Linked DNA regions of Homo sapiens. The protein of the gene in region 2 binds, or shares a complex with, the protein of the main gene of each other region. Each region holds a gene or a part of one and is shown on either strand. Other genes may lie near its edges.

Region 1 (4,686 bases), on a different chromosome or scaffold from region 2:
GTCTTTTAATTTTAGAATATGTTAATGTCTGTCCCAGCATGTTGGAACATAATTTCTTTAAAGGGAGGGATCATTGCTTTTTCTCAAGTGATTTTAGTCTCTTCACCCTGTGGTAAGAGGATTGTTTCATATACGAATCCATAGGTAGGAAATACATGTTCTCCCTGCCTGTTCCCCTCTCTCCAAAATGTAGATACACTGGGCAAAGAAACATAGCCAAGGAATCCTTTTTCCCCTAATATCTGTATGTCTTTCAAGAGGATATTACTTCCTTCTCAGAGTAGAAGGGAGGAGGAGTAGACAGATTGTTGCTTAGAGTGAAGTTTACACGAAGTAAGACCAAAGTCCGGCTCCTGTATCATTGTTTTCCTTTGTCCTGCTCTGTTGGTTTATTTTTCTTGTAATGTTGCTTTCATATGATTGTTCTCCCTCCCTTTTTCCTTGCAATATAGATTCCTAAAGGAAAACCCAACTCTTCCTTTCCTAAAAACTCTACTTTGTAAGTCACGTTCATGGCACAGTGAATTCCGCTTTCAGTTTTGGTTCTTCACTAATCATGCCTGCGTATGATCGTCCTGTTGCTTACAGACTCTGCCTGTTCCACCTTCCAGGGCGCTGACCTAAGCCTTTTCCGGCCTGCTCCTCCTGCCTACTGTGGTTGGATGTGATGTATATGACAGTGACATTTTTATGCCAAAGTTACTTGGAACTTCTGGCACATCTCATGGTTGCTTACAAGCGAGTTGTGTTCTAGTGTTTGTGTTAATGATACTTTGGCAGTGATTTGCTGTTAGAGTGAATGTTCCTATCATGTTTCCTACGTTTGAATACGTTATTGTCCTTTGGAGAACAGTTGGGTGCCCATCAGTTCTTTCATCCCTAAGCAATTTTTTTTTGCCTTTGCATATTTTTTTTCTGTCTTATGAATTAAAGATCTTCATGTATTTTAAGTAGTTTTAAAATTTTATACATTTTTTTGAGACGGAGTTTTGCTCTTGTTGCCCCGCCTGGAGTGCAGTGGCGTTCAAAGCTCACTGCAGAAATAGAACTCCCCCACCTCAGCCCCCCAAGTAGCTGGGACTATAGACATGTGGCCCCATGCCCAGCGTATGTAGTTTTTTTTTTTTTTGAGACGGAGTCTCGATTGTCGCCCAGGCTGGAGTGCAGCGGCAGAATCTTGGCTCACTGAAAGCTCCGCCTCCTGGGTTCACGCCATTCTCCTGCCTCCCGAGTAGCTGGGACTACAGGCGCCTGCCACCATGCCTGGCTAATTTTTTTTTTTTTTTTTTGTATTTTTAGTAGAGACAGGGTTTCACTGTGTTAGCCAGGATGGTCTCGATCTCCTGACCTCATGATCCACCTCTCTTGGCCTCCCAAAGTGCTGGTATTACAGGCGTGAGCCACCATGCCTGGCTCCAGCATACATAGTTTTTTACTTTTAGTTTTATTTATTCTTTTTTTTTTTTTTTTGAGACGGAGTCTCACTCTGTTACCCAGGCTGGAGTGTAGTGGCATGTTCTTGGCTCGCTGCAACCTCCGTCTCCTGGGTTCAAGCAATTCTCATGCCTCAGCTTCCCAGGTAGCTGGGATTACAGGCATGTGCCACCACGCCAGGCTAATTTTTTGTATTATTTTTTCAGTAGAGATGGGGATTTACTGTGTTAGCCAGGATGGTCTTGATCTTCTGACCTCGTGATCCGCCCGCCTTTGCTTCCCAAAGTGCTGGGATTACAGGCGTGAGCCACCGTGCCCGGCGTTATGTTCATTTTTTGTAGAGACAGGGCTTCACTGTGTTGCTGAGGCTGTAAGTGGGTTTTGAAGTCACACAGCAATGTCAAGCGTTTCCGCCGCAGAAGAGATTTGAAAACTACTGAAACCTTGATGCTGTGACATTTGTCATTTTGAGATCATTTAGGCTGTTTCAAAGCTGTACTCAGTGTAAATGCTTCATGTGTGTAGGCAGCTAGTTTGGTGTTATTTGTCCATCCTAATTAAATAATTTAACAAGCATTATGAATGGATAGTCATTTGAACATTTATGATTCTTGGGTTGATTTTTCATTTATTTTGTTTCAAACTAGTTAACTGTGTAGTAATTGTAAGTGGTTTTTTTAAAAAAGTACAAGTGAATGTAACTTTTACCTGTTACATCATTTTTAAGGGAAAAGCCTGCATGCTTCTTTATTTTGGCTGACTTGTTTAATGCATACTAATAGGTAGATGACCCTCCAACCAATAGGTGGCTTTCTGTTGCATGTCATAGTGCAGTTGAAACTCCTTAGGGTAATCACCCTCTTTAAAGGCAAAAGACAAATAGCATGAGTGAAGTGGTCCAAATGCCATTCTTTAATAACCTCAGTGGTCTGATTTACTTTGAGCATGCTGTGTTTCACTCTGAAGTAAAATCTGATTATAGTTTGGTGTATCTGGCCAAGATACAAAAGCTGAAATATTTATAACAGCAGAACCCCACAATAAAATACGATAGAACTTCTTGGCAACAGTTTATTGCTCAGTTAACTATTTTGAAGCATTTCTGATAATTAGCTTGTGGGTAAATTAGATTTTGCAAAAAGTTTGCAAAATACTCTTGATTCTTGAAGAGGTGAGGTTATTGAGAAAGAGTATTTTGACCCAAGATTTATGTGAAAGCTTGAATGTCATTTTAGTAAGATGGTTTCCTTGGCTGTCTACGTCAAGAGCTTATTTAGCGTAAAAACATTGAGTTGTACTGCGCATCAGTTTTTTTCATTCTGTTGACCAATAAATACTTTCAGGACCATAATCCCTTCTTGGCTTAGGCATCTCAGGTGTCAAGGATGATAGAAGTCCTTTGCCTGCGTTTAATACCAATTGTAGCAAGTAGAAGAGTCTTTATGCTTGGAATGACACCTTTGTTTGTGGCTGCCATAGCCTAATGTAGTCAATACGAAATAATTGACTTTTTTTCTTTTTTAACAGGTGAAGAGCAGAATAAAGAAGCGCTGCAGGACGTGGAAGACGAAAATCAGTGAGACATAAGCCAACAAGAGAAACCATCTCTGACCACCCCCTCCTCCCCATCCCACCCTTTGGAAACTCCCCATTGTCACTGAGAACCACCAAATCTGACTTTTACATTTGGTCTCAGAATTTAGGTTCCTGCCCTGTTGGTTTTTTTTTTTTTTTTTTAAACAGTTTTCAAAAGTTCTTAAAGGCAAGAGTGAATTTCTGTGGATTTTACTGGTCCCAGCTTTTAGGTTCTTTAAGACACTAACAGGACTACATAGAGGCTTTTTCAGCATTACTGTGTCGTCTCCGTGCCAGATGTGGCAAGATCACCATTAGCAAATGGAAATTACATTTGAAAGCCATTAGACTTATAGGTGATGCAAGCATCTAAGAGAGAGGTTAATCACACTATAGAGGCATAAGTGGTATCAGTTTTCATTTTTCTAATTGTTTAAACTGTGTTTTATACCAGTGTTTGCAAGTAATTGGGTGTTAGCTTGAGATGGTTAAAGGTGGTTTGGGGAGGGACTTCGTTGTAATGGTTTTGCTGTAAAAAATGTTTCCAACTCCGCTGAAATGTTGCTGAAAAGCATGGTGCTGGTAACAGTTCAACAATCCGTGGCTGCTCATTCTTGCCTACTTTACTCTCCCACTGAAGCAGGTTAGCGTTGAAGGTGGTATGGAAAAGCCTGCATGCCTGTTCAATTCTTTTGTTTCTTCTCCTTCCCCCTCCCCCTACCTCCTTCCCCTCACTCCTCCCCTCCTTCGCTCGCTCAACCTCTTTTGTTCAGTATGTGTAACTTGAAGCTAATTTGTACTACTGGATATCTGACTGGAGCCACAGATACAGAATCTGTATTGTTCTTACTGAAACACAGCATGGAATTAACATTAAACTTAAATAAAACAAACCTAAATTAAAAATGCCAAATATCGCGCCTCCATCCTTTATACTTCTAAAATAAAATCTCTAGTCCAAACACACTGACAGTATTATGTTTGCCTGAATGTGAAACATTCCTCCTTTTTTCTTCCATAAATAATTTGTTTGCTTCCCAAAGATGTATGTTTTGGAAAAAAATTGCCTGTAGTCTGGTTGTGAAGAACACTGAGTCAGTTGATGGTGTGTCTTGTCCTCCAGACCAGGCAGCAACATGGTATTTATTTTAATCATTAAAGTACAACATGAGTAGTACAAGGTGTAATTATGGATCATTTTCTAGCATAGTATTTCATACAACCAAATAAGGCTGAATGTCTTATAATAATTCTTAGAGGTAAAAACTGTGTGCCCTCTTCCTCCAGAGGCTAGTGGCAGTAGTGGAGAATTACTCAATCCTTTCTTAGTAATCCATACACACATTATAGACAGCAGGATAGCAGTCTCCCTTTCCAGAAACACTGTATAAGAAGCTTCTTTCCATAAACAGTTTATACATCAATGTGTATAGATACCTAGTTACTGTAGATCTTTTTATGTTAGGCATTCAGATGTGTCTCATTCTGACTGCGTAACATTGATGTACACCTGATTTTGTTAAGACCAGTTTGCTCCTTTTGGGCAGGTGCTGCAGGAAATACCCTTGGAACAGTTTTTGCTTAAATATTTGTATGTATCTGGAAGGTACATTTCTAGATTCCCTGTGTCAGTAAACATTTTTCAGTTGATAAATCCTTCCTCGTCACACTTGTCTT
Region 2 (5,013 bases):
TCCGCCCACCTCAGCCTCCCAAAGTGCCGGGATTACAGGCGTGAGCCACCACACCTGGCTGGGGTTTGATAAAATTATTCTTATGCAGTAAGATAGAAGCCATGATATTGTGACCTGTGTTTATTTGTAACCTCTGTAATTTTATCACATTTATATATATACTGAGTATTTCACAATAATCAACATTTTGATGAAAAATTGAGTGAAGGAACATAATATTTTAAAGCAGTCTTAAGAAGTACTATCATGTCTCTATTGTTGCTATTATGGAAGTTAGATTACTTCATAACAACATGAATTGACATTCTAGCTGAGTAACCTGTCTTAGGAAATTGACAACAGAAACTTGTGAGGTCAAGTTACACAGAAAGATGGTTAGGTGAATAGAAGTGCTAGCCACAGAAGTATACACTATACAGGAAGAGTATATTCACTGTGAGATGACCCAGGAAGAAAAACTGTTAGTTAATATAATTAGGTCAGCTGGTCCATTGGGTAGAATAATATGTTATCCAGGCAGTTGAAAAAATAGATCATCAATAACTAGATCATCAGTAGGAATAGGAGAGGAACAGACAGGAAAACAAATACTACTTTTGTCAAAGACCCTTATATTTGAAGCAGCTTCCTGCCTCTGTATTGAGGTTACACTAATGAAAACACCAGACTAGACTGAAATATGTGGGAGCAAGGCAGTTACTGACAGTTGATACCTTAATACTTATTCCCATTATTTTTCTGTTTGACATAGGTGATGCTCATGCTTTTGATGAGGAGTGGCAAAGTGAGGTTTTGAAGTACAAACCAGGACGACACAATCTAGGAAACACTAGAATGAGAAGTGTTGGCCATGAGAATCCTGGCTCCCGAGAACTTAAAAGAAGGTAAAAGTTGTTTCTAAAATAGTTTGGTTTTTTAAGAAGAATTTGAAGTAAAGTTATGTAATTTACTTCTGTTATCAGAAAGTTTTGATGATCATCCAAATTGTATCCACAGTATCTTTTGTGAAAGATGTAATAATTTTATATGAAAGCTGATTATTCCACACAAATTTAAATTTATATCTAAAAATCAATAATAGTTTAGGATTTTATGGTTAGTAATTCACTAGTAAACTATGCCTCAGAAGACAGAGACCAAAATCCTCTTAAGGAAAACTGATATCCTGTAGTGTAGTTATTCTTGTAAAACACATTGTAATATGGATATAGATAGAGTCATACATTTCACACTGGTAAAGATATCTAGAGATATGATAAGGGGAGAGGGGCTCTATTTGGAAGACTTAACAACTTTCTTAACAAATCAAAATTTAGCATTTAATAGTAAATTTCAGACACTTGTATAATATGTAACAGTACATGCAATACCATATTCGATGTGTATTAGATATTTTGGAAGAATTTTGCAAGAACATTAGCTTCTTTTAGAATTCCCTTTTAGAATAGCTGAGAAAAATAAATTTGCTGAAACCACATATTAAAGATTATAGAGATTTCTGTCTGGACATGGTGGCTCATACCTGTAATCCCAGCACTTCCGGAGGCCGAGGCAGGTGGATCAGTTGCGGTCAGGAGTTCGATACCAGCCTGGCCAACATGGTGAAACCCCGTCTCTACTAAAAATACAAAAATTAGCTAGGTGTGGTAGCACACACCCTGTAATCCCAGCTACTTGGGAGGCTAAGGCAGGAGAATTGCTTGAACCTGGGAGGCAGAGGTTGTGGTGAGCCAAAATCACACCACTGCACTACAGCCTGAGTGACAGAGCAAGACTCCATCTCAAAAATAAATAAATAAATATTATAGAGTTTTTAAATACATTTTGTACATACTCTGGAGCTACAGTTTAATGTGGTTCTCAGAGGAATAAATGGATAATAATATCTAATTCCTATGAAGTTACACTCAAAGGCCTCACCAGACCTTAAATAGAAATCTGTTCTAAGCTATAAGAAAGTGGAAAATTGCTACAGAAGGTGGAAGCCTTCACAGAACTAGCAGTGGACAAGTGAGTATCAAGTAAATCAGAAGCCTTATGCAGAATTTCATATGCTAGGATCTTTTCTTCTAAAATACTTGTTTAGGAATTTAGAGCCCTAGTATTTTCTATTGAATTGCTTGAAAACTTGCTCCCATATTCATTATAGATATTTGTCTCATTTGAAAAATGTATTGATTAAAAACCTGGCAGTGCCAAGTTTGAATAGGAAATCCAGGTCGCACTTAGAGAAGGCATGCTCTTTATGGATGACCTATAAATTTCTGGCCCTAACAGTGGCATTTTCTCTTAACCGGCACTGTCCAATGGCATTTTCTGAAATGACTTCGGTAATGACAAAAATGCTATATATCTATTCTGTCCAGTGTAGTAATCACTAGCCACATGTGGCTGTTGATTCACATTTGAAGCATTGCTGGTACAACTGAAGAACTGAATTATTTTATTTTAATTCAAATATAAATGTGGTTAGTGACTACCATACTGTTAACATTAAACAGTGTTTAAACTATAAACAGTTAAATCTAACAGGAAAACAGCTGTTGCTGTCTTAAATTCACTGAAATAGTCTGCCTTATTTTCTGGTTTTTTTTGTTTTTTATTTTTTGTTTTAGGGCAGGGGGTACAGAGTCTGGCTCTGTCGCCAGGCTGGAGTGCAGTGGCGCGATCTCAACTCACTGCAACCTCCACCTCCCAGGTTCAGGCAATCCTCCTGCTTCAGCCTCCTGAGTAGCTGGGACTACAGGCGCGCATCACCACGCCCAGCTAATCTTTGTATTTTTAGTAGAGATGGGGTTTCATCATGTTGGCCAGGATGGTCTCGATCTCTTAACTTGTGATCTGCCTGCCTCAGCCTCCCAAAGTGCCGGGATTACAGGCATGAGCCACCGCACCTGGCCAGCCTTGTTTTTCAAAGCCATTAAGGAATTTTTAAGATAAAACTTTTCTTATATTACAGTGGTTTTTAACATGTTTGTATTGATTTATAAACCATTGGCCATTTTTTAAATGATATTAATATTCACATGTATATTTCTCAGGGAGAAACCTCAACAAAGTCCAGCCATTGAACATGGAAGGAGATCAAATGTTTTGGGGGACAAACTCCACATCAAAGGCTCATCTGTGAAAAGCAACAAAAAATAAATAGCCATGCATTTGATTTGTTTAGTTTTGATTGTTTTAACAGTTAGTAATGGTGCTGGGTAATAAGCATAAGACCAATCTCTTGCTGTTAAATCAGTTCTGTCCTTGGCAACTTTCTTCTGATATCTGAATGTTCATGAAGGTCCTAGCTTTATATTGTCCCTCTTTTAGGAATAAAATTTTGATTTTCAACAATGTGAGTAAATTGAGTCTATTTAATGTAAAACTCTTTAAAACATACTAATTTTTTAAAGCTTATATGCTTATTTCGCTTCCCCAGTTGTTTTTGTGTTGGCTAAATATTCTTTTATATTTATCAAGATTGATTGCAGAGCAGTTCTATCACTTATAATTAGTTATAAGAAATTATAATGTTAAAAAAGTCTCAGTTTTTACTAACACTGTACTAGGGTGATATTAATAAAGGTTTAAATAATTTATCTCTAATTTTATAATGTGTTGTAAAGCCAACTAGCTTAAAACTTTAAAAATAATAAAGCAAAACTACACTAGTACTCTTTTATGAGAAAATAGTTACTATTTTGATAAAGGGCAAGGATAATCAAATAGTTCATTTTCAGAGAAAAATATTTTAAATTGCTAATGTACATGATTGTTTTGGTTATAATTTATTTATAGAATGTATCTTTTCTATATTACATTCTTAATATTCACCAGATATTATATTGACCATTCTCTTTAACTTCTTAATGTGGCATATTTCTACTCTCCTTTCCCACAAACAGCTTCATCTGTCTCCAAGGTTAACATTCTGAAGCTGGAGAGTCCTTGGAGAAACTCTGCTCAGCTTTTTTGTGACATTTAGAAAAATGCATTTGGTATTCTCCAAACCAGAATGATACATTGTCTCAAAATCTGTTAGACAGCTGATGGGTGTTTTTGAGCAACGTCTTAATAATTCAGTTGTTTCTGTTTTAATTATACCATTAAAAATCAGCTTTAGCTTTTTAATTCTAGAATTTAAGCATCAGTCTGTTCTTATAAAAGTTAGGTTTGAAGTTTATAAGAATATAAAATCTTAACTCACATTTGTTGTTTAATATTTCTGTCAAGGAAAAAAGCCCCCAAAAATTGCTATCACTCTATAATCCTAAGTATTTTTCTTTTCAATTTTGTAAGTAAAATTATATGACTATGTTCATACTTCTCTAATTTTTTATATAATATTTTTGTTAATTTTACTAGTTTGTGTTTTATGCCTTTAGTCATTAAAATAAAATGCAAATGTGTTAATTCATTGTTGAAATTGAGCATGTATTAGTTAAAAATTTCCTTTTAGGCATACTTTAGTATACTCCTAACATACCATAACACATTGGGAAATTGTCATAAGGCACACATTTTAAATAACATCTTGATATAAATTAACCTGATAGAGCAAAGTCTTAATAAAGTACATACTTGATTTTCCTTTTGCCTAAATCATTACACTGATGATAACTTGAATCATTGTAGTCAAATCTAAAAACACCCTTTAATAAATAATTGTGTTTAACAGTATAATTCCTGTACATCAGATTGCAGTTAGAGATTGTGGTGAGGCAGAATTTGAGATGGTAGTACCGAGAAAAGTTCTGTTTCTTTCTTAAAAGTCAACTCTATCTTTGCACCATAAAAACATAACTATCGATATCTATACCCCAGAATAATATTTGTTTGCAACAACTTCTTATGATGGGTGTTTAATACTGTTAGTCTGTAAATTGAAACTATTTAAAACTATATACATGCCGGGCGCAGTGGCTCATGCCTGTAATCCCAGCACTTTGGGAGGCTGCGGCAAGTGGATTGCTTGAGGTCACTTCAAGACCAGCCTGACCAACATGGCAAAACCCTGTCTCTACT

The links.
Region 1: the proteins of MLF1 (region 2) and YWHAE are in contact, whole or in part, in a crystal structure (PDB 3UBW), measured with the Homo sapiens proteins. Residues at the interface, in NP_071888.1 of Homo sapiens: Arg31, Ser32, Phe33, Ser34, Glu35, Pro36, Phe37; in NP_006752.1 of Homo sapiens: Lys50, Asn51, Arg57, Arg61, Lys123, Arg130, Tyr131, Glu134, Pro168, Gly172, Leu175, Asn176, Val179, Tyr182, Glu183, Leu219, Ile220, Leu223, Asp226, Asn227, Leu230, Trp231.

What each region holds. Positions count from the first base shown.
Region 1 is NC_000017.11:1,343,775-1,348,460, reverse strand, and holds the end of YWHAE (14-3-3 protein epsilon), read left to right. Parts: intron 1-2,961; coding exon 2,962-3,014; 3' UTR 3,015-4,186; downstream 4,187-4,686. UniProt on the Homo sapiens protein: Adapter protein implicated in the regulation of a large spectrum of both general and specialized signaling pathways. Binds to a large number of partners, usually by recognition of a phosphoserine or phosphothreonine motif.
Region 2 is NC_000003.12:158,602,056-158,607,068, forward strand, and holds the end of MLF1 (myeloid leukemia factor 1), read left to right. Parts: intron 1-751; coding exon 752-884; intron 885-3,041; coding exon 3,042-3,147; 3' UTR 3,148-3,893; coding exon of another isoform or gene 3,894-3,915; 3' UTR 3,916-4,401; downstream 4,402-5,013. UniProt on the Homo sapiens protein: Involved in lineage commitment of primary hemopoietic progenitors by restricting erythroid formation and enhancing myeloid formation.